Regions from separate parts of the Homo sapiens genome. Here regions 1 and 2 are each linked to region 3. Evidence: fine-mapped expression QTL. A gene starts in region 3. Each other region holds a variant in brackets. All regions are shown on one strand. Distances are from middle to middle. Region 1 overlaps FAM221A (family with sequence similarity 221 member A). Region 2 overlaps STK31 (serine/threonine kinase 31). Region 3 holds the start of FAM221A (family with sequence similarity 221 member A).

What was found. PIP is the estimated chance that this variant, and not a neighbour inherited with it, causes the effect.
Region 1: its variant is the best candidate, but not a certain one, in a credible set for the expression of FAM221A in whole blood (TOPMed, PIP 0.63).
Region 2: its variant is the best candidate, but not a certain one, in a credible set for the expression of FAM221A in whole blood (INTERVAL, PIP 0.67).

Annotation. Positions count from the first base shown.
Region 1 is chr7:23,701,398-23,709,584 of GRCh38, forward strand. It overlaps FAM221A (family with sequence similarity 221 member A), which reads left to right. Exons shown (of 7, transcript NM_199136.5): 7 at 699-1,253. The coding sequence ends at 767. Among named protein-coding and RNA genes, the nearest start is that of STK31, 4.7 kb to the right of the region's middle. The variant G/A (reference allele first, on the strand shown) is at 3,181.
Region 2 is chr7:23,718,868-23,727,054 of GRCh38, forward strand. The region is part of intron 4 of STK31 (serine/threonine kinase 31); the gene reads left to right. It also overlaps the pseudogene PCMTD1P3. Among named protein-coding and RNA genes, the nearest start is that of STK31, 13 kb to the left of the region's middle. RefSeq lists enhancers at 4,669-5,196, 5,197-5,724. The variant A/G (reference allele first, on the strand shown) is at 3,188.
Region 3 is chr7:23,676,456-23,684,642 of GRCh38, forward strand. FAM221A (family with sequence similarity 221 member A) reads left to right here and starts at 3,744. Exons shown (of 7, transcript NM_199136.5): 1 at 3,744-3,828; 2 at 8,044-8,187. The coding sequence starts at 3,764. RefSeq lists a silencer at 3,678-3,967 and an enhancer at 4,298-4,547.

The DNA of each region.
Region 1 (8,187 bases), 25 kb after region 3:
CCCAGCTAATTTTTTGTATTTTTAGTAGAGACGGGGTTTCACTGTGTTAGCCAGGATGGTCTGGATCTCCTGACCTCGTGATCCACCCGCCTCGGCCTCGCAAAGTGCTGGGATTACAGGCATGAGCCACCGCGCCTGGTGCCTATTTTGAATTCTTAATATGTATTATTTATTCTTCTTAGAGGCTTTTAGGTGTATCCAGACTCGTTAAAATTACCCAATACACATCTGGGCACAGTGGCTGCTTTTTTGCTTTAACTACAATGGAGGAGGAAAAGACTTTCAGAAAGGTAACTGTGGGAATATAGAAACCAGAATTATAGAAAACTATCCTTAAAGCAGTCCACGTTCCAGAGAGAATCCAGCTGGATTAGGTGCATTATGTAACTCTGTAGGGAATGTGCATAGGCTGGATGTAAGTTTAGTCATTTTAAGCACTTGTAATTTTAGTGGCAATTGAAATTGTTTTCTCTAAAGCAATATTCATATATTACTTTTATTAAAATGCTTCTGTAAAATTAAAATAAAACCATCTGAAAATGTGTAATTATGTCCCTTTAACAGATTTTGGCTTTAGTATTTAGCAGCTTAATAACTGTGGAATGGCTGTGACATGAATCTGAATGAGTTTTCTGCAAGTTTTTTTTCTTTAGAATGGTTTACAAGTTATTATATCAATAAATATGTTAAATTTACAGATGAAAATGGAAAAGGCTGCTAAGTGGAAAGGAAAAGCTCCATTGCCATCAGCTACAAAACCTTCATGAAGACTATTGGAGAAATTAAAACCATCATCCAAGTATCTTTTTCATGTTTATTTAAATGTAATAATACAGTTTATTTTTCCTGAAATTATTTACTTTTTTTTTTTACTGTATAAATGTCTTTTGGGATGTTTCCTTAATTTATTTAAATAACTAAAAATGCCTATTACTTTTGTCAAAACTCATAATTTACTACTTTGTATGTACCTTTCTTTCTCCTGACAAATGAGGTTATTTTATATGAGTCTGTCTGAGAGTACAGTAAATGTTTTTAGTACATAATAATTTAACTGTTTCAGGTATTTAAAAAATTAAAGATATTATCAAGGGTTTTGGACAAACATATGAGCCATTTTTTTGTCATTCAAAATAGTAAGTTAAAAACAAGAGAACAAAAGAAAAAAATAGTTAAAATCATTAATTTTTTTATTTTTCAAACTTTGTAATGTTATGTTTTCAAATAAAAACTATCTCAAAATTTTACAACCATTTTCTAGTGATATTACTGATTTTTTTTTTCAATCTTTCTCAGGCTGAAGATATCTACTGATTTTTACGTTGTGTTGTCAACCACCCATTGTCTATGACTGTACTGGACACATCTTGTGTGCCACTGCAAATCCTCTTGGCCCCGTTTCTTACTCCATTACTGCTGTGGAACACTTTCCAGCAGGCTTCTGATAGCGGAAGCCATTTGATGGCACCTTGTCTTGGGCGCATGTCATGGCTCTCTTGCTTCCTTCTGCAGGGATCTTCTGACACTGTGGCTTGGGATGCCCACTAGAACCCCACTGTATGATACATATGCAGCCCAAAGATGTTGGGGAGCTAGTGACTTTGGGGCCACTCTTGATTAATGGGAGGTGGAAGCCCAATACATAAGTGCTCTCCCGTCTGTTGGGAAGACAATTCTGAAATGCATTTCATAAACTTCCTCAGAAAGTCCTATCGTTGAGCTCCAGTCACCCATAGCAGTGGCCAACTCAATAATAATATATCCTTATCTTTCTTTTTTCCTTTTCCACTCCTCTACCCCTCCCTCTAGTTCCCTCAGATCACTTCCCAAATAAACTACTTGTATAACAACACTTACAGGTATAAGAACATTTGTCTTAGGCTTTGCTTTTGGGCAAGGGATAAACTCAGGCTAAGATGGTTAGTACCAGGAATGGCCTTTGACAGCAAAGACTCAGGATAGTATCCTGTGACTGGATCAGTTACTGCAGTGGATTTGGATGAAGTGCAGGTGGCAGGTGAAGTGCTAGGTTATGCAGTCGCTGTGCCACTACAGTGAAATGGGACTAGTGGAAATTATAAAGATTAAGTATTCACTTGCTACTGTGAAATGCTTTAGGAGCTTTGAAAAAGAAAATGACACAGGCTCATGATAGCCATTTAACTCAAGGAATGCTGTGAAAGCCAGAGTCCCTCTGTAGCACTTTCAGGAAACTCATCTGCAGATGCAGGGCAGACTGTGCTGCCAATGAGGCCCAAATCTAATAGTAAAGGTGGCAGGGCTGCAGAGGAGACAGAATGCACAGCCTTGCTAGTCCCCAGCAAAGTCAGTGCTGACACAAAAACAGTGGAACCCTAAATCACAGGATGGGACATTTGTGTTGGTGAGCCTGAGAATCTTGAATCCTCAGGTTTCCATGAACTCTGAGCTGGCACAAGCCGTGTCCTCCAATTTTCTAGTGGAGAATAGCCTGCCCTTACCTTGAGATTCTGTAAAGGCTTTATCTGAGGCAGTTGCATCACAAGGTAACACTTATCCTCCTCAAGATCCACCCTTGTTTCCTCTCATTGACTCCAAAGTAATAACTAGGATCAGGTCTTAGCAAACCCTAAGTTGGGGAATACAGTCCTTCCTCTAGGAGGATAGGTTTCACTCTGAATCAACTGCAGATTCTGGTTAAAATGTATTGGGAGGAACCCAGGAAACATGTCTGAGAGTAGATCTTGAGGATATTGAGTCAAGGGGTGGGGTGGAGGTGGAATATAAGGCTTGATAGGAGAGAGTGACATGGGAGCGCTCACTCATGATGCATGATTTAATTCCCTGGCAAGAATCTCTGGAGTTGCTCCTAACACAATGCAAGGATGGCATATAGAAGATATGATAGGCATGCTAGCAGTTATCTGACATAGTATTGAGGAAGCGGTCAGAAAGCTCAGGGATGTATTTGTTGTTTGAAACTGGAGAAGTTATCACCCGACTTTTCCCTGGGAGGGTCCAGATGATATTCATAACTAAGGCAAAAAAATATATAATGGTAGTCAGGTGCAGTGGATCACACCTGTAATCCCAGCACTTTGGGAGGCTGAAGTGAGAGGATTGCTTGAGCCCAGGAGTTCAAGACCAGCCTGGGCAACATAGTGAGAGCTCGTCTATACAGACACACACACACACACACAC[G/A]GTGGGCATGGTGGTGCATGCCTGTAGTCCTAGCTTCTTGGGAGGCTGAGGTGGGAGGACTGCTTGAGCCAGGAGGTTGAGGCTGCAGTGATCCTTGATCATGCCAATACACTAGCCTGGGTGACAGAGTGAGATCCTGTCTCAAACAACAACAAAGAGAAATGTAATGGTGAAGAGCATACTGGAAACTTTGAAAAGCTTGGCAATGGTTGATTGACCTCTACAGGCTAGAACTGATGATGGAAGATGCTGTCATGACAATGGGCTCTGTGGTATCAATGTAGATAGATGATGGGATGCTGAAATTTTGAAGGCCAAGTTGCAGAACTTAACTGTCAGGGGCCCAGTGGACCTAATTAACTTAATGGGCACCTAGGCATGAATCTGTGAACAAGGTAAAGTTCATGATGTTCCAAGGGGCAAGACAGAAGGACAGCTGATTAGGATGTTATTTGAGTTGTATAATTGACTTGTTATATAATGATGTTGATTGACTTGTATTATTTGACTCCTCTCACCCCTCAAAAAAGAAAATTGAGAATTGGCAAGGAGAAGGCTGACATCAATCTTGGTAATGAAAAACCATAGTTCCCCATCCAGTTTCCAGATCTAAAGCTCATGATGCAAGGGAAGGCCCAGATCCCCTCGAGGAAGGATCATCCAATATATTTGGTAAATATCCCCCTAATCCTTTCTCCAAGGGGCAGTCACGTACCATCATTTACCAAGGTAACTGTGCAATGGATAAAAAGGAATAGTCAGATTTTTTTTTTCAACCAATGACTGTTGGATACAGTGCCTGACCTGACATGGATTCCAGAAGACCCAAAATACCATTGTGGTTCACTGGTTAGAGTAGGGAAGCTCAGTGACAAATGGCGTCCTGGCCAAAGTTAATCTCACAGAAGGTAAAATGGGTCTGGTCCCACTCTTTACTTCTACTCTCCCTATATATACATAATTGAGATAGACATACTTTGAGGCTGACAGAGCCCTTGGACCTACACTGATGGCTCTTGCTTCTTGTCCCAGGGCTTCTTAGATGCTGTAGGACAGACTTAATGACCTAGATGCTTCCCTTGACCAATGGGTCATGTCGACATAAAGTCAGTAAGGATATAGAAGACTTGAACAACAGTATTAACCAACTTCACCTAATTGACATTTATAGAACACACTAACCAAGAACAGCAGAAAACACATTCTTTTTTTTTTTTAGTGCAAATGGAACATTTACTAAGATTGACCATATTTTAGGCCATAAAACAAGGCTCAATATTCTTAAGATGATTTAGATCTTAAAGTATATCCCCTGACCACAGTGGAATTAAATTATAAATCTATAACAAAGATACATGGAAAAATCTCAAATGTTTGAAAATTATATAACACATGTAAATGATCCATGGGCCAAAGAAAAAAAGTCAAAATGGGAATAAAAGCACTTGTAATTGAAAGGCAATGAAAACACAACATCATATTTGTGGGATGCAGCTAAAGCAGTATGTAGAGGAAAATTTATAGCACCAAAATGCCTTCATCAGTAATGAAGAAAAATCTCAAATCAGCCCTTACCTTAAGTAACTAGAAAAATAAGAGAAAATGAAACTATAATAGATAGAAAAGGGAAAATAAGACCAGAGTATAAATTGAAATAGAAAACAAAAGCAAGAGAGAAAATCAATAAAACCAATAAAATTTATAAACCTCTAGCCTGACTAATACGAGAGAGAGGGAGAGAAAGAGAGAGATAGAGAGAGAAGGCACAAATTATCCATGTTAGGAATGAGAGTGGTGACATCACTATAGACTCTACAGACATTAAAAGGATACTAAGGGAATACTATAAATAACTATGCCAATTACTTTGACAACTCAGATGAAATGGACAAATTCCTTAAAAAAACACTGTGTTGTAAGTCCCCTTTGTGGGATATTTAAAGATCATTCCAGTTTGGCCATGGAAATTCCAGAGAGGCATATAAAATTAAAGACGTCATTATACTCATTTGTTCTAGAAAAGGGAGGCATGACATGCCACATGGGGGCTACATATAAGGTTTGAACGCCAAGGGAGCATGCTCGAGCTTAGAGAGAGTGAGGACCCATGGGCAAGTGCCTTTACTGGGGGTCAGAGCAGAGTACACAAGAAAACCTGGGAAGGGATTTCATTGGTGCTTTTTGAATGTCATTAGGTCACAGTCGGGACGTGGCAGGAAATAGCCTATCACCCTGGTACACCTGGTCACTTGGGCAGGGTGGTTATAGCCTATTTGTGGGGATATTGAGGCACCAGGAAAATATAAAGTTAAAAAAATTACAATATAGACACAACTATCAAGCTCATTAAATACTAAATGGGTAACATGATTAGCCCTATATCTATTAAAGAAATTGAATTTGTAGTTAAAAACCTTACCACAAAGAAAATTCTAGATGGCTAGAATGTGCACTAGAGGAAATGATGCCTAGATGGCTAGATGGCCGCACAGTGAATTTCACCAAGCCTTAAAGGAACAAAGAATATCAATTCTATAAGACTCTTCCAGAAAACTGAAGTTGGGAATTCTTTGCAACTTATTCTATATGGCCAGCATCACTCTGATATCAAAACCAGACAAAGCCATTATGAGAAGAGAAAATTTCAGACCAATATTCCTCTTGAACATAGATGCAAAAATTCTTAACAATTTTAGCAAACCTAATAAGACAATATATAAAAAGGATAATACATCATGACCAAGTGAATTTTATCCAAGAAATGTAAGGTTGGTATAACATTTGAAAATTAATTGATGTAATTCATCATATTAATAAACTAAAAAAGAACCACATGATCATTTCAATAGATATGAAAAGAAGTATTTGACAAAATTCAACACACATTCATGATAAAAATTTTCAGCAAACTCAGGATAGAAAGTAACTTCCTTAATCTATTAAAGGTATCTACTATAAACCCACAGCAAACATCATACTTAATGGTGAAAGGAAAATGCTTTCCTCTTAAGAATAGGAACATGGCAAGGGTGTCTGCTCTCAGCACTTATTTTCAGCATTACACTGAAGGATCTAGCCACTGCAATACGGCAAGATAAAAATAAATAAAAGACTTCCAGATTGTAAAGGAGAAAGTAAAAACAGCCTTTATTTGCATAAGACATGATCATCTATGTAGATAATCCTGTTAAATTTATTTTAAAAACTATCACTAGAAATAGGCTAGACTCAGTGTCTAATACCGGCACTTTGGGAGACTGAGGCAGGAGGCTTGCTTAAGCCCGGGAGCTCAAGGCTGCAATGACCTGTGATAGCACCGCAGCTCTCTCATCTGGGTGACAGAGCGAGACCCTGTCTTACACACACACACCCACCCACAAAAAAACTATCACAGAAATAATACACAATATACTAAAGTTATATTTCTATATACTAGCAACAAAACAAACAAGTTGAAATTAAGAAAATAATACAATTTACAACGGCATGAAAAATGAAATTCTTAGGGATAAATCAGACAAAAGTAAAACTTTTATAATGAAAAGCATAAAACATCACTCAGCGAGATAAAATAAGACCTAAATAAATATACTGTGCTCATGGATCAGAAGACTCAATATAGCTAAGATGTCCATTCTCCTCAAATTGGTGTATACATTCAATGTGATCCCAATCAAAATCACAGCAGGCTCTGTGTGTGTGTGTGTGTGTGTGTGTGTGTGTGTAGATGCTGACAAATTGCTTCTACGATCGCATGAAATAAAACTACCGTAATTAAGACAGTGTGGTATTAGTCTAAAGAAAGCAAATAGATCAGTGTAACAGAACAGAGAATCCAGAAATAGACTTGCGTATGTATGGTTAATTGATCTCTGACAATAGTGCAAAGACAATTCAATAGACAAATGACAGTGTTTTAAACAAATGATGCTGGAAAAATTAGATATCCATATGCAATAAAATAAAATTTGATTGTTTCACATGTTATAAAAATAAACTCAAAAAGGACTATATATCAAAATGTAAAGCTTGAACATGTAAAATTTCTGGAAGAAAATATAGAAGAAAACTTTTGTGAACCAGGCTAGTCGGAGATTCCTTACATACAACACAAAAGCATGAACCATAAGACAAAACCGATAAATTAGACTTTATTGAAATTAAAAACTTTTGTTCTTTGAAGTACCCTTTTTAGAAAACAAAAAGACAGCTGTAGACTGGGAGAAAATATTTTCAAACCTGAAGGAGTTTTATCCACAGTATATAAAGAACTGTCAAAACTCAATAATAAATTCAGTTAGAAAACAGGAAAAAGCTTGGACACCTCATTTAGGAAGATCTGGATGGAAAATAAACATAAGAAAAGTTTCTCAACATTTTTAGTTAGTAGAGAAATAAATGCAAATTAAAATCACAAGGAGATACCACTTTAAACATTTATACATGAATGTTTAAACTTAAAAACACAAACCATATCAAATGATGGTGAGGATATAGAGCAACTAGAACTCTGAAACCCGCTGGTGGGAATATAAAATAGTACAACTGTGTAAAACTATGCGGCAATTTTTTAAGCACATATACAATTCTATGACTTGGCCATTCCACTCCTAGGTACTAACCCATGAGATATGAAAACATATGTCCATACAAAGACTTGCACACAATAGCAGCTTTATTTGAAACAATTCAAAACTGGAAGCAGTCCAAACACCTATTAAAAGGTAGATAAACAAATTGTGTTATATTCATGCAGTGGAATAGTAACAGCAATAAAACCCAACAAACTCTTGACACATAGGACGAAATTTATCAATCAAAATAATTATGCTATTGGAAAGAAGCTAGATTAAATGTTCATACTGTATGATTCTATTATCGTAAAATTCTAGAAAATGCAAACTAATATATGGTGACAGAAAGCAGAACGGGAGCTGGGAGGAGTCAGGTATTACAACCGGGCATGAGGAAACTTTGAGGTGATGGAAAAGTTTATCTTAATTGTGG
Region 2 (8,187 bases), 42 kb after region 3:
GAATTGCTAAATTGTAGGGTAGACATGTTTCTGCCAAAGTAGATACTGCCAAACAGCTTTGCAAAAGTGTTGAACCAATTTACATTCTTATCAGCAATTTATGAGAGTTATAGTTCCTCGATATCCTCACCAGCCCCCTGCTTTGCTAGTGTACTGAGGTTGTGTTTTAATATTTTTATTAGCCCTTTGGAAGGGGTCTTGTGAAGTACCTATTCACATCTTTTCCCCATTTTTAAATTAGGTTATTTGTCTTGATTGATTTGTAGGCATTCTGTATGTTTTTTTCACTTTAATTTTCATTTTTGTTTCTACCTCTTAAAGTCAATGATAAAGTCACAACTGTAAAATGAATGCATTTAAAAAATAAAAGATATATTTCAATGACAAAAAGTATGCAATGATCATGAAAATCTACTGTACACTTTGCCAAGGCCAAAGAATGAAAGACAATATGAAAAAGCCAATCTTCAAATATATCCTCAACAAAAACTCCCTCCTAAATAGTAAAATTATCATTTAAGAATATTTGTCTTTACACATCTAAACAGAAGCTCTAACCAAAAAAAAAGTGGGGGAAAGGGCAGATGATAACTCTCCACAAGTTTTCCAGATATAAACATGTGGTCACCAGGAATTCAAGATTAAACTTCTAAAGCAACATTTAACTCAAAATAAAGTGAACATTTCTGACAGGTGACAACAGTAGTATGAAACTGATTTTTCCTTTCCTAAATAGAAATGAGATGGGGCATTTCAGTAATCATCTAAGAATAACTGTAGAAATACTCCCAATTCTACCACCCCACCCACTGGTATAAAACAGATACCTTCCATGAAAGTATCTTTCACATTACTGAAATATCCTCACTTACTTGGGACAATTTCATGCTTAGATGAGTATAAACACTTGTTTTTAGGTGTGTGGAATTATTGGAGCTGAGATTTTTGAAACAATATCTGAATCTTAGCAGAGATATAATAATACTTTCACTATACATTGATTGGGCTTCCTTAACCAAATCTGAGCAACTACTGTAATAACAATGCTGGTGGTAGTCCATGATACTCTCAAATTTTTTCCCTTTAAGAAATATATAATCCATGTAATACTAGTAAATATGTTACATTGTACACCTTCTTAACAAAGAATGTCTGTTTTCAGGCCTTACTAGGAAAACAAACAAACAATGGCAGTTACTGCCTGTTTTTATCACTGATAAGCTACAATAAAGCTCAAATGATGGATGGTTTACGTGTGTGATATTAAGTACAAAATGAAAGCCATTATAATTTTACCAAAAGAAACACGAAAAATATGGGAAGAAGTGAAATGAACATGGCATGGGTCCCAAAGATTACGATATGTTTCAGAACAGGATTTTGAAAACAAACAATTTCTGTGAATATTTCTTATACTAGAAAGATCCAAAGCAAATCTAGGCAAGCTTAGCCCTACCTTGTCAAAGATAAATACTCAGATAAGTTGGAAGTTCCGTTTGCTAAAGTGCATCTGGGATCATATCTACCCTGCTACTTAGAGACAGCCAGGAAGGTGGCCATCACTCATGCTCTTTCACTCTTTCTGTGTCTTATCAAGAGTCACACGTAACAATTTTTTTTTCAAACCAAATGCTTTATATAGTGAACTACAGGAAAAACAATTCTAAATACACTTTTAAAATGCTAGAGAGTTAAGATAACCTCATTAAAGAAAAAATACTGAAAATGTAAAGGGTCCATACAAACTAAGAGCTGTATTAAGTGTATACTTTCTATTTTAATAATTCACTTGGCTGTGCTCTTAAAATGAGAGAAGCAGATATTTTACCCATGTCTTCTGGCAAGAGATTCAAAAGCAGAAGTAGCAGGACTGTAAAATTTCATAAAATTTGTGGGATTTTTTAAAGCTAAATTATTCAATATCTTGTACAGTTTTGTACCCATATATTACCCCGGAATATATGTACAGCATCCCAGCAACAGTGACTGCAACAAAAGTAAGGTAAATAGGTCTACAAAGCATTTGATTTCCTTATTAGAGAAAGTTTTTATAGAGGAAATGCAAACAACTGCAATTCAGATCACATTATATAAGCTTGATGATTATTTAAACCTTATATAAAATTAAATCTAACCCTTACCACTACAAATCTGTAAGGAATCAGAAAAGGATTTATAGTACACAAGTCTTGATTACTGTTTCATTCCACTTTGATATCACTCTGAGCTAAAACAGCATTCTTCCAAGATTTAAAGAAAAATAGATTTTATAAAAGGGATTCTTTTACATTATTATTGTTACTGACAGAAACAAGTTTTGCTTTTTTCCACTATAATTCGCTCTGATGAAAGAAATAATTCTCTCTCTTAACTCCTAACAAACGCTACATTTTCAAGACTAAGGGAATTACTGGTGGCATTCTTTCTCCTTGATCTAAACTATTTGTCTCTAAAATATGTCAAGTAAGCTTTTAAAGATTCAGGAAGGGGCAGCGTTGTGATTTTTTTCTCAGTAAATTTTGAGGTGGCTCCTCTGGCTTCATTGCTTCACTGTGATCTTTTTCTTCCTCTTCTTTGTTATCTTCCATTTTTTCATCCTCCTCTCTGTCCAGAGGCTGAGGAATAAGCTGATTACCCACAAATATGTATGTGTTAGTTCTCTGTTTAACTCTCTTTTTTTTTTTCCTTTTGGGTGGAGCCCTTTGCGGAATCCCCTTGGCCTGCATCTCATCATTTATGAAATTTCTAAGTGTGCGTCGAATGTAAATACAAGCCAAGCCCTGTGGATTCCTGACAGCACAGGGAGGGAGTCCCACAGAATCTGGTTTACCATTATCATTCTTACTTGGCTGCACAAGTGGAGCAAATGACACAATAAGGATATTTTTCCTTTCCCAAGTGTTTTGTCCAGTTCTGCGTTAACTGATCCTCTACAGGCATGATCCTCTACATTCATTTGATCTTCAATCAGTGATACCCTTTCTTCCACTTGATCAAATCAGCTACTGAAGCTTGTGCATGCGTCACGTAGTTCTCGTGCCATGGTTCTCAGCTCCATCAGGTCATTAAGGACTTCTCTACACTGTTTATTCTAGTTAGCCATTCGTCTAATTTTTTTCAAGGTTTTTAGCTTCTTTGCAGTGGGTTTGAACATCCTCCTTTAGCTTGGAGAAGTTTGTTATTACCA[A/G]TCGTCTGAAGCCTTCTTCTCTCAACTCATCAAAGTCATTCTCCATCCAGCTTTGTTCCGTTGCTGGCGAGGAGCTGCGTTCTTTTGGAGAAGAGGCGCTCTGATTTTTAGAATTTTCGGCTTTTCTGCTTTGGTCTCTCCCCATCTTTGTGGTTTTATCTACTTTTTGTCTTTGATGATGGTGACGTACAGATGGGGTTTTGGTGTGGATGTCCTTTCTGTTTGTTAGTTTTCCTTCTAACAGTCAGGACCTTCACGTCCTCAGCTGCAGGTCTGTTGGAGTTTGCTGGAGGTCCACTCCAGACCCTGTTTGCCTGGGTATCACCAGCGGAGGCTGCAGAACAGCAAATATTGCGGAATGGCAGATGTTGCTGCCTGATCGTTCTTCTGGAAGCTTCGTCTCAGAGGGGCACCCGGCTGTATGAGGTGTCAGTCTGCCCCTACTGGGGGGTGCCTCCCAGTTAGGCTACTCGGGGGTCAGGGACCCACTTGAGGATACAGTCTGTCTGTTCTCAGATCTCAAAGTCTATGCTGGGAGAACCACTACTCTCTTCAAAGCTGTCAGACAGGGACGTTTAAGTCTGCAGAAGTTTCTGCTGCCTTTTGTTCAGCTATGCCCTGCCTCCAGAGGTGGAGTCTACAGAGGCAGGCAGGCCTCCTTGAGCTGTGGTGGGCCCCACCCAGTTCAAGCTTCCCGGTGGCTTTGTTTACCTACTCAAGCCTCAGCAGTGGCGGACGCCCCTCCCCCAGCCTCGCCGCCGCCTTGCAGTTCATCTGAGACTGCTGTGCTAGCAGTGAGCGAGGCTCCGTGGGCATGGGACCCTCGGAGCCAGGCGTGGGATATAATCTCCTCGTGTGCTGTTGGCTAAGGCTATTGGAAAAGTGCAGTATTAGGGTGAGAGTGTCCCGAATTTCCCGGTACCATCTGTCATGGCTTCCCTTTGCTAGGAAAGGGAATTCTCTGACCCCTTGCACTTCCTGGGTGAGGCGATACCTGCCCTGCTCCGTGGGCTGCACCCACTGTCTGACAAGCCCCAGTGAGATGAACCCGGTACCTCAGTTGGAAATGCAGAAATCACCCGTCTTCTGCGTCGCTCACACTGGGAGCTTCAGACTGGAGCTGTTCCTATTCGGCCATCTTGGAACCTCTCTCTCCTCTTTTCTTTATAAATCTTGATTTTACTTTTATTTGCTGAAACAGTCTAATGCCAATTCTCCTTTCTATATTAATGGAGAATGAGCATGCAGATAAGTGTCTCTATATGATTCCTTGACAGATTTCTTTCAGAGACTATGTCTATAAAAATTAGCCCATCTGAGACCCATCATTGGAGCCAACTCATTCCTCAATTTTTAAAATTTTTTTTATGGGGGGATTACAGGTGTGAGCCACTGTGCCTGACCTATGACTGTGTTTAATATTGTTATAAATTAAGACATACTCCTTTTCTTCTATTGAATATAAAATTAATTACCTTATCAAAAATTTAAACAAGTGTCAGTAATTAAGTGATTAATCAGCTACTTCTGATTGTTCATAAATGGATTATACTTTGTCAGTTTTCCTTAGTGATCTAAATGGTTCTCTCCCTCTGCCACCATGTAGAAGGGTCATAGGCTATGAATAGTGGAGTTGTGGGAGGAGAAGATTGGGCCCAGGCACAATGAGAGTGAATATATAGTTTTCACTATGTCATGAGAACAGATAAGTCTATCTGGGATAGATTTACATGTTTTGGTGGTTGTATTACACTAACAGAGCCACGAACTTCAGATTCTTCACTTTGTTGAGTACTGTTATACCTAGGCGAGTTAGAGAAACGCCACACTCTGAGACGAATTAAGAGTCCTTTATTTAAGCTGGCGGCCAAAGAGACGGCTAATGCTCAAAATTCTCTCGGCCCGGAGGAAGGGGCTTGATTAACTTTCATACCTTGGTTTAGGAAGGGGAGGGGAACTCAAATGCAGTAATTCTACAGAAGTAAAAACATGCAAGAATCAAAAGAAGCAAATGGTTACAGAGAGATAAACAATTTAAAAGACAAATGGTTACAAAAAGCAAGGTACCAGGTGCAGGGCTCTAAATCCTTCATTATAATTAGATATAAATGCTATGCCGGACAGGAACTCAAGGCTTTATGTTGTTATCTCTTTGAAAAAAATCCTGGGAACTTCATACATTGTTTGTGCCAGTACCTTATCAGTTAATTGGGCTCCTTTGAAATGCTGAGGATCTGCTTACACAGGTCAACTCCTTGCGGAAGGAGGTTGGGTAAGGAGCCCTTAGTGTCTTGTAAATTAAGGGGTCAATTGGAGTTTGTCCGGCTTTCCCAGCTAGAGAGAGTCTTACTTGAGAAGCAAGGCTAGGTGATTAAAGAGACAAACAGGACAAAATTTAAAGTAGCGAGTTAGAGTAAAAACAAGGTTAGGCATTACAGTACCAGCTCTATTCTTGGACACAAGTGTTCCCAGCCCTGCCTCACCTGGTTTGCAATAAACCATTGCATATCTGTCGCTTACCTTATACCAAATTATTAATCATATTGTGATGTTATTACAAAGCCTTAATTAAAGATGATGCAGTCTTTTGCAGGGATTGAAATTGGTTAGGACTGTTGATTGTCAGCTATTTTTGCTACTTACCCCTGTCTTCTTACCAGGGTTGAGAGAGAGTACCGTACTATTACTGCTCTCTCTTGCCCTTTAGTTGTTTAATGTTAGCTGAAGAAACCGGAGTTAATTATGAATTGAATACACTTATCCTTTGTAGCTTTTGAATTGTTATTTATTTATTTGTTTGTCTGAATTTATGTGTTCTTTATTGTTTTGGTGAATAGGTTTGGTGTTTAGGTTTCATAAAATAAATCTGTGGATTTGTCCTAGTTCAGAGTGATACATTGAAATTAATTTTATAATCCATAACTTAAAGCAGTATTCTTCAGCCATTTTTCTCATTATTCCCTCCTAAGGAGCATTTTTAGACCTGTTTTCTCCCTAATGGCCTAATGGGCCTTCTCCCCTTCAGATATTTTAATACTACAGATATACAGTATATAATAACTATGTTATCAGTAGGGTTGAACTTTGGAGGGCTACAGACCATTGTAGTGTTTAAGATTTCCAACTCTCCATAAGGACCACTTTTATTCCCCTTAGGGATATTGCCCCAGTTGAGAATGTATGATTTAAAGCTGTTAAGGCCAGGCATGGGGGCTCATGCCCGTAATCCCAGCACTTTGGGAGGCCGAGGCAGGAGGATTGGTTGAGGCCAGGAGTTCAAAACCAGTCTTGGGCAACATAGTGAGACCCTGTTTCTACAAAAAAAAAAAAAAAAAAAAAAAAAGCTAGGTATGGTATGTGTGCCTGTAACCCCAGATATTTGGGAGGCTGAAGCGGGAGGATTGTGTGAGCCCAGAAGTTTGAGGCTACAGTGAGCTATGATCATGCCACTGCACTCCAGCCTGGACAACAGAGTAAAACCTTATCTCAAAAAAAGTAGTTATCAGCCTGCAGTGATTTTTGTATCCTTCCCAATCCAATCATGGCTTACTTCATTTTTGTTACTGTAAAGAAATACCTGAGACTGGGTAATTTATAAAGAAAAGAGGTTTATTTGGCTCATGGTTCTGTAGGCTGTACAAAAAGCATAACTCCAACATAGTATAGTTGAGAGTTAGACTTAAGTGGCATGTACTTCGCATGTTTATGTTTTAAAAAAATTATACCAATTATGTCTTCAGACATTAAAATAGTATGATTTTAAGTGTTTGATGCCTGTGTCTTCTAAAAAAAGTCTTTTTGCTTTTTATACAACTCTAACAAGGGACTCAGGGTGCTTCCACAAATATTAGAAGGTGAAGAGGAGCCAGTGTCTGTAGATTACATGGTGAGAGAGGAAGCAAAGGGAGGAAGAGGTGCCAGGCTCTTTTCAACAACCAGTTCTCTTAGGAACTATGAGTGAAAACTCATTCACTTCCACGAGAATGGCACCAAGCCGTTTTTAGGGATCTGCCTCTACTATCCAATCACCTCCTACCAGGCCCCCCTCCAACATTGGGAATCAGATTTTAACATGAGATTTGGTGGATGATATCCAAATGATATCCATCTAAATCATAGACACCTTCAGGAGACATTTGACAGTGTTTGGAGACGTTTTTGCTTGTCACAACTGGAAGTGGTGCTACTGGCATCTAGTGTCTAGAGGCCAGAAGGGATGTTGGTAAATATCTTACAATGCACAGGACAGAGGACAGCCCCACTCTGCCACTCAACACAGACTCATCTGGTCCCAAGTGCCAGTAGTGCTAAGGCTACTTTGAAGTTCGAGAAAATGAAAGCCAGCCTGGGCAACATGGTGAGACCTTGCCTCTACAAAAAAAAAAAAAAAAAAAAAAAAAAAATACAAAACTTAGCCCAGGCGTGGTGGTGCGTGCCCATGTTCCCAGCTACCGTGGGGACTGAGGTGGGAGGATCACTTGAGCTTGGAGAGGTTGAGTCAGCAGAGAGCCATGACTGCTGCACTGCACTCCAGGCCTGGCGACAGAATGAGACCCTGTCTCAAAAAAAAAAAAAGAAAAGAAAATGATTGAAAGTACATAAATTTTCTCTTTATTCTTTTATTAAACATCATTCAATTGAGATATAAAATAAAGTACAGTATTAAAGATATTATCTAATTTAGTTTTATCTACTTAATAGGACTAATGTCCTTATACGTAAAGTAAAAAGTATGAAATCTTTCTTGCTTGGTAGGAAATATGAATTCCACTATAGTTGAGAGTTAGACTTACGTGGCATGTACTTGCCATGTTTATGTTAAAAAAAATTGTACCAATTATCGCCTCAGATATTATAATAGTGTGATTTTAAGTGTTTGATGCTTGTGCCTTAAAAAATTTTTTTTTTTGCTTTTTATACCCCTCCCTCCTCATTTTGGAGATGCAGAATAGCATAATGAACTCTGAAGTCAGAAGTTTGAATCTTGGTTCTGCAGTTTA
Region 3 (8,187 bases):
ACATAGCACTATCAATAAAGTGCTCTTCTGAGAAGACCTGCTCCTGACTCTAAATACCTACTCAAGTCTCAAGACTGATGTACAAATTTACAGGAAATACAGGGGATAAAGAACATAGTAAGTGATGTCTTTCTGTAAACAACCAAATTCAGAAAGATATTCTACAGGAAAAGTGATCCAAATTCTTCAACAAATTAATGGCACAAAAAATTGGGATAGGAGAAAGGGAACTGTCTAAAATTACAAAAGACTCGTAATATATTAAACGCATATAAACCAAAGGTAGTATAGGCCTTGGTTGAATTCTAATTAGTATAAAATTAGATGACACTAATTATCATCTAATAAATTAGGTTTATTAGATGATATCTAATAGATGATATCTAGGCTGGGTATTCTTAGATGATATCAAGGAATTATTGTTTAATTTGTTAGGTGTGATAATGGCATTGTGGATTTTAAAACAAGTTATTGGCCGGGCGTGGTAGCTCATGCCTGTAATCCTAACACTTTGGGAGACCGAAGCGGGCAGATCATGAGGTCAAGAGATTGAGACCATCCTGGCCGACATGGTGAAACCCCGTCTCTGCCAAAAATACAAAAATTAGCTGGGCGTGGTGGTGCGCGTCTGTAGTCCCAGCTACTCAGGAGGCTGAGGCAGGAGAATCGCTTGAACTCAGGAGGTGGAGTCTGCAGTGAGCTGAGATCATGCCACTGCACTCCAGCCTGGTGACAGAGCGAGACTCCATCTCAAAAAAAAAAAAAACCCAAAAAACAAAAAACGAAAAAACAAGTTATCTGTTGGAGATACATACTGAATAATTATCTTTCTTGTCTTGTAGCTATCAACTGTCAAACCATTAAGACAATAAGAATCAGGCTGATCAGGATTAAGAATGACTGAGAGAAGATTGCAGAGACTTAGACTTTAAGCTGGGTGCAGTAGCTGGTTGAGATTTTGGGACTGCCTTACTTAGAGGTCTGATGAATGCCTTTAGTGTGCAATGCCTGCATGGGAAGAAGGGCATGCATGGATATTAATCAGTTTAAGGATAAGCTGTCACCAACCATGTTTCTTGGTGAACTAAACACATTTTTAACCCAACACACATTTCTTTTTTTCTTTTTTTTGAGATGGAGTTTCACTCTTATCACCCAGGCTGGAGTGCAATGGCGCCATCTCAGCTCACTGGAACCTCTGCCTCCTGGGTTCAAGCAATTCTCCTGCCTCAGCCACCCCAGTAGCGGGAATTACAGGCATGAGCCACCACACCTGGCTAATTTTTGTATTTTTAGTGGAGATGGTGTTTCACCATGTTGGCCAGGCTGGTCATGTACTCCTGACCTCAGGTGACCCACCTGCCTTGGCCTCCCAAAGTGCTGGGATTACAGACATGAGCCACCGTGCCCTGCCCCAACACACATTTCTAACCCTCTCCTTGACAATTGCCATCATAGAGCCTGGAAAACTAAGTACTGGATTGGCTTTCCCAGTTTTCTCTATACCAAGGTGTGGCCATGTGAGACATAAATGAAAATTTTTTTGCAGAGGCCTCTAGGAAAACTCTTTGATAAAAGAAACAAATGATGTTGGTGGCCCTCCTTTTTCCTTTCTTGAATTTGGGTATGATTTCTGGAGTTGTAACAGCTCTTGCAACCATGAGGAAAATGCTCTAAACCAATGTGAGCAACTACCTACCCCCACTCTTCTTTAAAGCAATAAAAAATAAAATTTATGTTTAATTAAGCCACTGTTAGTTGAATTATTCTGTTATTTTCAGAAGAAAGCATTCTTAACCTATACATCACAGCAAAATGCTGGCAAATCCTATCTCATAAACTTTCATGAGGATTGAATAAATAAAATGCCTAACACTTGCCTAGGCAATTTACATGTTCCTCTGTCCACCCTACTTCCTAGATCAATTTAGCTACACATTGGGAGGAAGTTATAGTTTGATTATACCTTTTTATTAAAGCAGAGGTGAGTACCATATACAGTATTTTAATTTGCAAATCTGTCAGCTTTATGTAAGGTCAGGATAACATTTTCTAGTTTGTTCCATACTCTTATTCGTCACGCTCAATATTTTTGTTGACTTCTTTGGCCAGAAGAGTTTACTGCTCCAGCATCTTCCTGGAAGAGTCCACAATTGGGCTAAATCTATTTTAACCATTTCCCTCTAGATTTTTAAATTGTACTTGCCTACACAGACATTCCCCTGCCACTTTTCTGTAAGCCTGCAGAGCCTGGCATTTTCTTCTATTTTTCTTTGTTAGTTCAGTTGCTGCCTAAAAGCAAGACTAGGCTCTCATAGAGGTAGAATGGGGCTGGGCGTGGTGGCTCACGCCTGTAATCCCAGCACTTTGGGAGGCTGAGGCGGGCAAATCACGAGGTCAGGAGATCAAGACCAGCCTGGCCAACATGGTGAAACCCTGTCTCTACTAAAAATACACACACACACACACACACAAAAGCCAGGCGTGGTGGCTAGTGCCTGTAATCCCAGCTACTCAGGAGGCTGAGGCAGGAGAATTGCTTGAACCTAGGAGGCAGAGATTGCAGTGAGTCGAGATCCCGCCACTGCACTCCAGCCTTGGAGACGGAGCAAGACCCCATCTGGGAGGTGTCGGGTGGAAGAGGTAAAATGGACAGCAGCAAACCACACGTGTGATAGGAGAGAATACTGAGCTGAGATCAGTTTCCTAAAATATGAATCCGATTTCAGGATCACTCATTTATCTGACTGTCAAGAACGCCTCTGAACAGGAGGAAGACTTTGGGGAGAGGGTGGGGTTTGTTGAAAGGGTACCGAGAAGGGAGGTGGGTGGTACCCAAACAATTTGTTTACATAATGTTTTATGGACCTGAAATATGTAGAACAGTACTTTGAAACTAAAGTACTGTACTGAAGTTTAATTATTTTTCTTATTGTTTGCATATTCTCCCTCCCAGATACTTTACAGAGGGCGCTAAAGCTGATCCCCTGGGAGCTTCAGAGTTTAATGACTTCGCCTGAAGATTTCCTATTCTTTTCCACAACGTGCTAAGTCAAATTATGGCCAAATTACCAATCGCATGGTAATTCAGCTTCTAAATATATTTTGCAGAGTGTTTCCAAAAGTTAAAAAACAACAACAAAACTTCACCTAAATTGTTTTTACTTGCTTCACCTTAAATCAGTTATTCGGTTCCTTTGAAGAACATGTAGCTTTAGCAACCCCCAAAGTGAACCCAGATACCCAGGACTACTGATTGTTACATCAGAGTTTTTGAAAACGCCAATACTGGAAACAGGCCGACAGTTAAGGAGAGGCAGGCCTCAAACTAAAGCAGAACCTTCTCAAAACTACTTATATTTCAAGAGATGGATTAAGCGAAAAGAGCTGTACAAAGAAATAAGCCATTTTCTATGCGCCTGTTATATGCAAGGCACTGCACTCCCTTGTCACTTGTTAATTTACAAGAAGACTCGCCGGTCCAGGGAAGGGAGAGGGGAATAGGTGCAAGGTTTGTGGAGGGCGGCAAACTGCACTCCATGTGGCGCGAGGCTGCGCTTGCGGAGATCCGGGTTCTGGTGCCTGGCGCCGGCAGCCAGTAGGGGCGCGCGTCCTGCGCAGTTGCCGCGCGCGGCCTCCTCGGGCTTCAGGCCGGGCCAATCAGGAGGCGGGCGGGAGGGGGCGCGGTACCGGGAGGGAACGGGGCGGGTCGGGCTTCGAGGTCAGCTGGTCCGCAGGGAAGCCTTTGGCTTCCCCACCGGCAATGGAGCGGTTGACGTTGCCTCTCGGCGGCGCGGCGGCGGTGGACGAGTACCTGGAGTACCGGAGGTGAGGCTGTGGCTCCGGGCCTGCCCCCCCGCCGCTCCGAGGGGCCAGGATCCCTGGGCTGGGGGCGCGAGCAGGGGCCCGGCGGGCGTCCGCGGGGGTTCCCGGAATCTGTGCCTGGGCTGTTGGGGGAGGCCTAGATGAATTCCAGTTTAGTCTTTGCCTAATTAAATATTGTAGGGCCACGCGGTTCTATGCAGTGATGAGTCTTCCAATAACATTTAAGAGGCCCCTCTGCTCCCTTCCAAGAAGGATGACTAACTCTAGATTGATACAGAGGTCCAGCTGTTTTTTAAATGGCCATTGAAAACAGGCACATCGAGTACTCGGGGCTATAGAAGTTAGCATACATCAAATTAACCCAGTAATTGAGTCAACCGTGAACTTCTGAACGCGCTCCCCACCCCGAGGTGCTGGTTTTAGGAGAAAGGCACCGACTGGTGTTTGGTATTCTGGAGAAACCCCTTCCGAAACTGGAAACGGAGTCGCTCCTTTGGCCTGAGGACGCGGTTCATTGTCCTGGATCCTGACCGAGGCTGGTGCACCTGCAGCGACGCGCTCTTTTTCCGCTTCCTGGGGTTTTTGATCGTCCGGAATCTGGGCGGATGGGAAGTCCTGGAGAGGACCGCCTGAGGACGCGGAGTTGGGGCGGGAGGATGTGTGTGTACAAGCGGAGGGGAGACGCTCCAGGCTCCGCCAGGGAGGCCGGAGCGAGCGACAGGGGCTCCTCTGCGGCATCGTGGGTGGCCCAGATGACCCAGAGGTGTGCGCGCAGACGGCCCCCCAGCTGACTGTTCTCCCCTGCTCTGACTGCCCTGTTTGTGTAGTTTTGGGTAACCCTTAGAACTGCCTGGATATTCTGAGCCAGAAGAATAAGGGCTAGGAGCTTGATGGGGTCAGTTCCCACGCCCGGTTCAGGGTCAGAACAACCACCATCCCGTCCTCTCCCAGAGCAGAGCCGGCTCCTTTAGCCTCCAGTTCTCCAGAGCTTTTGCCTGGGAGCAAGTTGCTGGAGCTGGTGTTGACTGATAACTTGGATATTTAGATATGTGAATTGTGGGCCTCCAGTTGACTCTTGCCTAGCTCCGAACATGTTAGGGCAGACCTATGTATGTAGTTATTTATTTTATTGAGAAATTATTTAGTTATTTATTTTATTGAGACGGGGTCTGACTCTTTCCCAGGCTGGAGTGCAGTGGCGCGATCTCGGCTCACCGCAATCTCCGCTTCCTGGGTTCAAGTGATTCTCCTGCCTCAGCCTCCCGAGTAGCTGGGACTACAGGCGGCCAGCTAATTTTTGTATTTTCTGTAGAGACGGGATTTCACCACGTTGCCCAGGCTGGTCTTGAACTCCTGGACTCAAGCTATCCACCTGCCTCGGCCTCCTAAAGTGTTGGGATTACAGGCCTGGGCCACCGCGCCCGGCTGGGAAATTATTTTTGCAATCGTAAATAACTTGCAACACTTCCCTCTGAAAGAGATTATCAGGTCCTTTACTGACGTCAGAATTTTAGAAAAGTGGGGAAAACAGGACTTGAGTACCTAGATATGAAAAGGTGGGCTGGGAAGGTGGGGTGGGAAGATGAGTCAAAATATGAGTTTAGAAGGAAACAAACTTTCCTTCCGAAGAGTTTTCCTGGATTTGCTCTTGCCTAGGTACTTCGGTGGGAGTCGGTTGGGAGGGGAAGCATGCAGCCTTGTTACTCACACTGTGGGAGGCCCTGACCAGTGTCCTGGCATCACCTGTTAGCTTGTTAGAAAAGCAGAATCTCAGGCCCACTGCAGACCTATTATTATTATTATTATTTAGAGTCTCGCTCTGTCACCCAGGCTGGAGTGCAGTGGCACTATAATGGCTGACTGCAACCTTGACCTCCTGAGCTGAAGCGACTCTCTCTTCTCAGCCTCCTAACTAGCTAGGACTACAGGCATGCATCTCCGCACCCAGCTAATTTTAAAATTTTTTGTAGAGATGGGATCTCACTAGGATGCCCAGGCTCATCTTGAGATCCTGGCCTCAAGCAATCCTCCCACCTCAGCCTCCCAAAGTGCTGGTATTACAGGTGTGAGCCACCACATCTGGCTTTATCATGTGTGTGTGTGTGTGTGTGTGTGTGTATGTATATATATATTTATTATTATTATTATTATTATTATTATTTTTTTTTTTAGATAGAGTCTTGCTCTGCTGCCCAGGCTGGAGTGCAGTGGCGCTATCTCAGCTCACTGTAACCTCTGCCTCCGTGGAAGTGATTCTCAGTGCCTCAGTTTCCAGAGTAGTTGGGATTATAGGTGCCCACCAAAATACTAATTTTTGTATTATTGGTAGAGACAGGGTTTTGCTATATTGGCCAGGCTGGGCTCGAACTCCTGACCTCAAGTGATCCTCCTGCTTCCGCCTCCCAAAGTCCTGGGATTACAGGCATGAGCCACTGTGCTGTGAGTCTTAATCTGCATTTGAGCAAGATCCCCTGGGGATTCTGTAAGTACAATAAAATTTGAGTTGCACTGGTCTAGAACTTAAATACCAATGACATCTTACTTTTAAAAGATCTTTTAAAGATCCGTATTTATCTTAAGATCTTAATACCTGTTGGTATTCTTGATAGCTACAAGAAAATGAAATGGCCCAAAATTTATCTCAGAATTAAATGCCCTTTGTTTCTTTACTATTATGTATCTAGATTGTTTATGTAAAGAAGGCGGTTTTGATTATTTCATAGCTTATAAATTGGTTTTTCTTTTTTTCTAATGGCAAGTACATAGAGCAATGGTTTTTATTTTCTACCGCAGCTAAAGGCTTCAAAGTATGGAAAAAAGCATGTATTGCACAAAAAAGTATGTAGCATTCCACAAACATCACTTTTTGTGACTTTTCAAGGGGAGTATTTTCAGGGAGAAATGTCTTCAGTTTTGGAAAAACTTCTTTTAGTCGTGCTTTCTTTTCCTCCAGGGAGGCCAACTCTTAATTTCTTTTCATAGAAATAGTGGGGGCTTTATGTTTTCCCATAATATTTTGGGTTCTTACTTCTGAAATTAACCCATGATAAACTTGATTACCTAACACACAGATGTGGTTGGAGCTTGTGCTGAGCCAAGTGTGTATTTAGGTTCCGCATTAGTTTAAACCCCTGGCCAGGGTTTGGAGACAGGTATGGAAATTAGTCATGTTGGCTTCTGCTTTGATGTTTTTTGTACTCTTTTGGGATACATTTTCAAAGGAGGTAAATGTTAGAATTTTGAGCAGTTAAGGCTCTACCTTTAATGAGAGGAATGAACATCTTTGCTTCAATATCAAAGGAAAAGCTGAGACGAATATGTGGTAATCCTCTGTTGATAAACCTGGATCAGTAAAGTTGCATTATGAATTCATTGTCTTTCCTATTTATAACCCTCTTATATAGGAAGTGGAGGGGAGAAAAGATTTCTTTTCTCACCCATCACTAGGTTCATGGCTGAGACACCTATGTTTCTGGATCAAACCGATAGTTGGGCTGCCTATTCTCGTGGCCCAGTAATGTGATTCAGATGAACTGGGAAAGAAGGGAGATTATTTCTGTAACTGGTTATAGGGAGAAGGCCTGGAAGATATCGCCAGACCAATTCAAAATTACATATGTTTATAAGTATATATATGTTTATGTGTAAGTGTGCATTTATCTAAAGACATAAATGATTAACTTCTAATCTATAACTAAGATCTGAGTCCTGAAGACCTTCCTCTGGAGCCTCAGTAAATTTAGTTAATCTAAATGGGTCCAGGTGCTGGGGTGATTACTCTGGTCTTGTCTCCTGCTGAATCATGGAGGTTTGGGGAGTTCCTTCAGACCCCCAGTAAACTTGTTTGTGGAGGTCTGGGGAGTTTCTTCAGACCCCCAGTAAAACTTGTTTAGTCCCAAACGGGTCCTTTAAGAATTCCTTCGTTATGTTGTCATGCTTCGAGGCCCAGGAAAGGCCTGGGCAAACGCTCGGTGGGCTTTTGTTACATTCCAGCCTTTGTATAAGGACCCTGGTTCTATTAGCTTTTAATATTTAACTTAACCACTCAGTCAGTGCTGAAACAGTTGTTACAGAGACCCGGCCTGCCACATCTGTAAGAAAAGACAGATTTACAAAATAAAAGCTTACAAATTTATTTAATATTTGCAGTGGCCTGGTCATAGCTCACCCAGAAAATAAATACTCAAAGCTTAAGAGAAATATATATTTTTGTTGTAGAATTGTTGGTGAGGATGATGGAGGGAAACTTTTTACTCCTGAAGAATATGAAGAATACAAAAGAAAAGTTTTACCTCTGCGCTTACAAAACAGATTATTTGTGAGCTGGCGGTCACCAACAGGGATGGATTGTAAACTTGTGGG